Linked DNA regions of Homo sapiens: region 1 is reported to be linked to region 2. The links are microRNA targets in miRTarBase. Many come from high-throughput screens and were not tested one by one. Region 2 holds a microRNA gene; the other region holds the end of a gene's coding sequence.
The links. The annotated mature microRNA hsa-miR-504-5p reads AGACCCUGGUCUGCACUCUAUC and lies in region 2 at 2,265-2,286, shown strand. An mRNA with a match to its seed (bases 2 to 7 or 8) in the 3' UTR can be bound and repressed. Matches are read on the target gene's strand: a 7mer-m8 pairs with bases 2 to 8, a 7mer-A1 pairs with bases 2 to 7 and ends in A, and an 8mer does both.

Region 1 (3,169 bases), not on the chromosome of region 2:
TTTATCTATCATCTACTTTATCTATCTAATCTACATTTATCTGTCTGTCTGTCCATCCAGCCATCCATCCAGTCATCCTTCTTGCAGGCATGAAGCTATGGTCTGTTCAGCCTGCATCCATTTAAAGGCTAGGCATAGGTGGGGTCCTAGAGGGCAGGTCAAGCGGGAAGGGGGAACCGTAAGATTAGGGAAGCTTCGTTCTTCTTCCTGCTATGGAGAAGGGGGTTGAGGTGGTGAAGAGGGGCAGCAGAAGGCCTGGGAGCCTCATCTGTATGGTGCAGGGATGTGGAGGACAGGCGATAGGAAGAAAGAGGCTCTGAAAAGATGATGACAACTCCATGTCACTGCTTTTAAAGCTTTTAGCAGACCACAGCCGGCCCCCAGGTGCTCAGCCTGCCTTTCTACTCTTCAGCTGTTTCCCCTGCACATGCACACTTTGGCCCTGGAATTCCCTCTTCCATCTCTGCCTGGTGAGATGCTTTTGCCTTTGAAGGTCTAATTTGACCCTTACCTCCTGTAAGGCTTCCTTAAGCCTCAAAAACACCAAGTGTCCCTCATCCCTGCTACTACAGCATGTTATTTCTCAGAGGGGCAATGTTCATCATAAACAAACACAGAGGCATCAACGTCGTCATCTTGCCCCATGTGGCCTGCCACACCCTACCACTCCATACGTCTCAACAGGTGGGTGAGGGGCTGCCTCGCGCTCACACATGCCTCTCTTACAGCACACACAGTGGTCTTCTCTGACTGCTTCTGTGCGCAGGGGATGAGGGAAGAAGGGGAGGCGACAGGAGTAGGTGATGACAAAACTGGTTTTTACAAAGCAATGCTGTTTGTTTGTACCAAAATATTTAATCAATATGCTGTTAAAATAAAACCAACAAAAGAAACAGTAATACAATTTTACTGGTTTATATTTCAATTCATAAAGTTGACACACTGAAACTACCTTAGCACAATGTCCACACACCTAGCATTAGATAGGCTTACAGCTATTTTGGTAACTGAACAAGAAAGACACAGAAAGCAGCAAAGGGGATGGTTGGTGGGGAGGGGGTTGCCACTTGTTACCTCCCTTATTACAGATAACCTCAGCAAGCGTTAGTACAGCCAATAAGAAAAAGAGCTACAAAACAACCCGAGTGTCTTTATATACAAAACCAGTGCCTCTTGTAAGCAGCCGCCTCAACACTGAACGCAGAAAAGAGGACAAAACCATCTGCGTGTCAGCCTGTCAGCATATCACTATATAAATTAAAAGTCAAAGTTTTTTTTTTTTTTAAAGGTGCTAAAATCCATTCCATAGCTTTGAAGTGAGAACTTACAGCCCATCTGAACAGTGAGGTTTGTACCCAGGCATACTCTGAGGAGGGCCCAAAGGCCCAGCCCATCTGGGAGGGACAGGCCCGGAGGATGGAGACCTCGCAGCATGTGCACCCTGCGCAGACATTTACAGACACGCAACTCAGTCTTTCTCACTTGGACAACCTGTTGTGCAAAAACACTAGGAATCTTGAAGTGAGGGAGCTCTGTCCACAGCTCCCGTAATGGCAGGGAGGAGAGCAGAGCCCAATGAACCTTGAGTGAAATTAAGTGCTCGAATAACCACATAATTAAATTGTGCAGATCAGCAGTCCTAGTCTGGAATTTAAACACTGTCAACGGGGCATATTGGGAAAGATATTTATATATATATATACATACACACACACACACACACACACACACACACACAAACACATTAAGCAAAATAAGATTTGTCCATGTTATAATCCAGTCTCACAGTCAAGTCACCCACCCCAGCCTTTTGAAGTCATTTGGCAGCTAATGCTAAAAAGTAACAGGAACTATGAGAGTTGCATAGAATTGATCAGAAACATGAATAATGCCAAACCCAAAACCTGCACCATACAGTTTAACAGAACCAGGTGGCTTCAGATGCAACTATGAAACCCTCCTATTTAAAACAAAGTGCTTCTCCATGTCTACCTGGGGGACCTTCTGCTGGCATTGAAGCAGAAAAGAATTATTTGAATTTCTGATCCCTTGCCCCACCCCCACTATATATATATATATATATATATATATATATATATATATATATATATATGTATATTAAAAAAAAAAGGTTTAGAAAAAAAATCAACAGACTGAAGGATCCCCTAACTCTGATCATGTAAACTCAGCCTTTAGGCTGGGTGAGGTGTTGACGTACACGGGGAAGAGGCCTGGGAGGTCACACTGAGGAGTGATTTCTAGAGTGTCCAGAGCGTCGGCTGAGCTAGCAGGCCTGTTAGTATCAGTAGTCTTACCCCAGAGGTTGCCTGCTTCACAAGCTCTGGTCCAGTGACCTACCAACATGCGTCTATGGATCTGACTTAGGTACATTCTGGTCCTGGGACAAGTCACAGAATCACACATCTGGCCAAAGAAGGCAACAAAAGGTGTCGTGTTTTCTGAAGGTGTCGGGAGGCGGCAGCTGCTCTCAGCAAGTCTCTTTCCCTTGAACCCCGGTTGCTGTCTTTATGGAGCTCAGTGTTCGGTTAAACCACGTCTTCTTGGCTGCCTGCACCTCATTGAGGGCAAGCCCTAAATGGTGTTCCAAGTCCTGCAAGAGGAACAGTGTGCATGAGGATGCTGGGCTTGGTGTCAATGACACTGGCTCCCCAGAGGAGAACCAAGACAAGAATGCAGTCTATTTACTCTGGAGAGGCCTCGGGGAATTCCCCCAGTCTCCAACTGGCATAGAAATGCCTGAAATGCCTAAAGATTTGGGAGCTTTTAGTTAAGATCTAATTTCTTGCCTGGTCTATTTATTAAAACAGTCTTCTACTTGCTATGTCTCCCTCTTCTGTCCACCTAATGCACACCAGGCAGACAGGTAATGCTCTATTTCTGGTGACATCATTTCATTTTGGCAAAAATCTTTAAACTCCCTAGCATGGCATTTGAAATGCTTCGCAATCTGGATCCACACACTCTCTTCCAGCCTTAGCACCACCTCCATCCCCTACTGCAAGGAAAGAACTCCTGAGGGTCCTTCCTGGGCAGCCACTCTCCTCCTTGTGCTGCTGAACATGCCACTCCCTCTGCCTGGAATTGCCACTGTTCTCTCTCTCCTGTAGCTACAAGCCCTGTGCATTCTTTGATCACAGCACAGCTACTG
Region 2 (3,169 bases):
GACAATAAAAACTTTGGAATAAGCTATAATTTCTGCATCCATGCATATTCAGGTCTGAAAATGAAAGAAGAGTGTGACAGGTTTGCATGTAGAACTTCCCACCCACTCATTTCTTTCCTTTCTGCTTCTGACACTTCAGCCTTTGAAACAGTTTCCCATGAGCAATACTGAGATTCAGACTATTTAGATCTAAAGGAAAAAATGCAAGCTCTTCTACAGCTTGTATCTAGCACCTGGAAACGTCTTAGAAGAAGTGCTAAAATGTAAATAATGCTGTTATTTGTTATGCACATAGGAGAAATCCTAAAGGTATTTTAGGGAAGAGATGGAATCCAGAGATATTAAGAACAAGGTGTGGGGGCCAGGGGAGAAGGGGAGAGGCAGAAGGATCCTATCCACATTATTAAAGTGAAATATTTCCAGTATACTCTTATCAACTGACATGTAGACTGCATGCCGCTTTCATGCAAAGGTATCACATTTCAAACTTAGCATTTAAAAGAAGCCAGACAAGAAAGGAAAAGAGACAGTTATTTGTTGAAAAAAGTCTGGGTTTAGCATCAGGCACAGGGGTTATTGGTAGTTGTCTGAAGTACACTGGAGCCTTGTAACATTGTTTTGTGCCATGTATTGCCAGCCTGATACCACTGGAGTACATCCTCTGTCTAGTTTTCCAGAACTCACTACAATAACTGTAGGATTTTTCCATCCTTTATGAAATTGCATCAGTATTGTGAAGGGCCTTAAAAGCCATTCAGTTCAACAACCATCTCCCAAAAGAAAAGTTCCTCTTCTTTTTCCATTTATTTTATCTCTTCCCAAAGCCATGGGGACCTAGATACATCAATTATCCTTTGTCCTGTACCTTCACTACCTCCTGGACTACTACCTTTTTTCCACTGGCATACAGATCATTTCAAGACTTCTCATCCTAAAAAGTCCCTCCTAAGTTTCTCTTTCAGACTGTCTCTTTCCTTTGATAGGCAAGAGCTTTCTTCATTTTCTCGCCTATTTTTAAATTATTCAGCTTCACCTTTGCTTTTATTTTCTCATCTAATTCTTAATTATTCAGCCCTCCGCATTCTATCTTCTGCCCACATTGCCATCCATGAACTCCTCCTGCTAATGTCGCTAGTGACTGCCAACTAAAATCCATTTCTCCCTTCAGTCCTTACCTTATTTCTCCTTTCTACAGCACTTGACCAGGTTGGTCAACTTTTTCATTGAAACCATCTCTTCTGTGGGCTTTCACAACACTGCTTTTTCTCTGTTCTACACCATCACTATTTTTCTTTTAATTTTTACACTTCCCTCGTCTTTTCTGAAATGTTTGATGTCCTCCCCACCCCCAGTTTCCAGCCTCAGTAGTTGTCTTGTATTCTGCTTGTGTTCTCTAGATTATTAAATGTATTCTTGTGGTTTCAGTTACCATCCATATGCAGACACCTTTCATCTTGAGAGCCAGGCTTATATATACAAATGGCTGCTGCACATTAACCTATCACTAATGGCTCTTTAAACTCAAAATAACCAACAATGGAGTCATTGTCTCTATCTCTGAAATAGAACACACTACCCTCCCCCACTTCTTCCCCTTTTTACCCTGTGGCAACAACCTTTTGCTATCCTGATTTTAAGCAGGCTGCAGCATCATAATAAATGATACATAATATCTGCCTTTAAAATGCCTGTAGTGGTTAAGAGGGAGGGCTCTGACATTACATGGATTTGAAACACAATTCAAATGCTTATAAGGTTTATGATTTGGGGCAAAGGAATTATTAATCCATCTGTCCTTTAGTTTCCTCATCTATAAAATGGAGGTAATAGTAGTATAGACCTCATAGGGTTCTTAAGAGGATTAAATGGAATGATAATACATGCACAGCATTTTACAGTGTTAAGTTCATTAAGTTAACAAATGCTTCATATTATTTGCCGTTACAGTCCATATAATAACATGCTGCCTTCAGGCCAATATATATAAGCCTATAATTCTTGGAAGACTATGGAAATCCTATCATATATTAAATTGTCATTTTTTTTAAGACTAAGAAAAATTTATGTAAAGTCCAAAAGTACAGCTGTTTACAGGGGACGAACTGATCCACAAGGCCACAGTCTACCCTCATCAGTTAGTGTCCATCACTGAAGTGGAATAACTCAAAAGGAAAAGGTAACTCAACGAGCCATCCATTTCCCACATAGAATCACAACAGAAGACAGAAAATATGGAGTGGAATGTTGAATCAGCTGCTGTTGGGAGACCCTGGTCTGCACTCTATCTGTATTCTTACTGAAGGGAGTGCAGGGCAGGGTTTCCCATACAGAGGGCACAGACTACCACCGTATGGCAAATGTTGACTGGAACTCAACTTCAAAGCCATTTCACCTGGAATCTTACCCCACCACCCCAATGCTTCATGAAAATTCAACTGATCCTCTTCTATGAAGAAACTCAATCCTGATAAGTCTCTTTAGTAGTTATTGAAATGTCTTTGTAACTCTCTTATAGTCAGGTTCAGTAAGAATGTTAAGTTTCTAATTGAGCTTTTCTTTCTGAACAGTTATTTTGTGTATGTTTATTTTCTGTTTACCAATGTAATATATGTTCTTTGCAGAAAAATTGGAAAATACAAAAAGGTATCTACAAAGTCCCCCAACCAAGAGAAAACCAATATTAATGTTCTGTTATAGATCCTTGTAGTGGCTAGCTGGAATTCGTGTATATCTCTCTCTCTCTGTCTTTGTCTTTCTTTCTCTCTCTCTCTCTATATATATACATATATTCCAAATATACATTTTTATGTAATATATATGTATATTATATATGTATACATATATTCCAAATATACATATATATCTTCATGTAATATATACGTATTTTATATATATGTATAAATACATAATATACATATATAACCTAATATATGATATAGCATAATATATGTATACACATATATGTGTACATATATAAAATACATATATATTACATAAAGATATATATGTACATTTGGAATAACTATGCATACCATGTTTCAAACCTGCTGTTTACTCGTTATTATGACTATTCCTCTATATATTAAAATATTATTCTTAATCTACATTTTAGTGGTTGAATAGTAATAATCTATTTAGTTTGTTCTCTGTTTATTTGTTTTTGTTTTTG

Region 1: miRTarBase lists RABGAP1 as a target of hsa-miR-504-5p. The part of its 3' UTR that is shown has no 7-base or 8-base seed match.

Annotation. Positions count from the first base shown.
Region 1 is chr9:123,102,533-123,105,701 of GRCh38, reverse strand. It overlaps RABGAP1 (RAB GTPase activating protein 1), which reads right to left. Exons shown (of 26, transcript NM_012197.4): 26 at 836-2,611. The coding sequence ends at 2,489. Among named protein-coding and RNA genes, the nearest start is that of MIR600, 7.5 kb to the left of the region's middle. RefSeq lists a silencer at 2,838-3,132.
Region 2 is chrX:138,666,877-138,670,045 of GRCh38, reverse strand. It overlaps MIR504 (microRNA 504), which reads left to right and starts at 2,253; the gene lies at 2,253-2,335. The region is part of intron 3 of FGF13 (fibroblast growth factor 13); the gene reads left to right.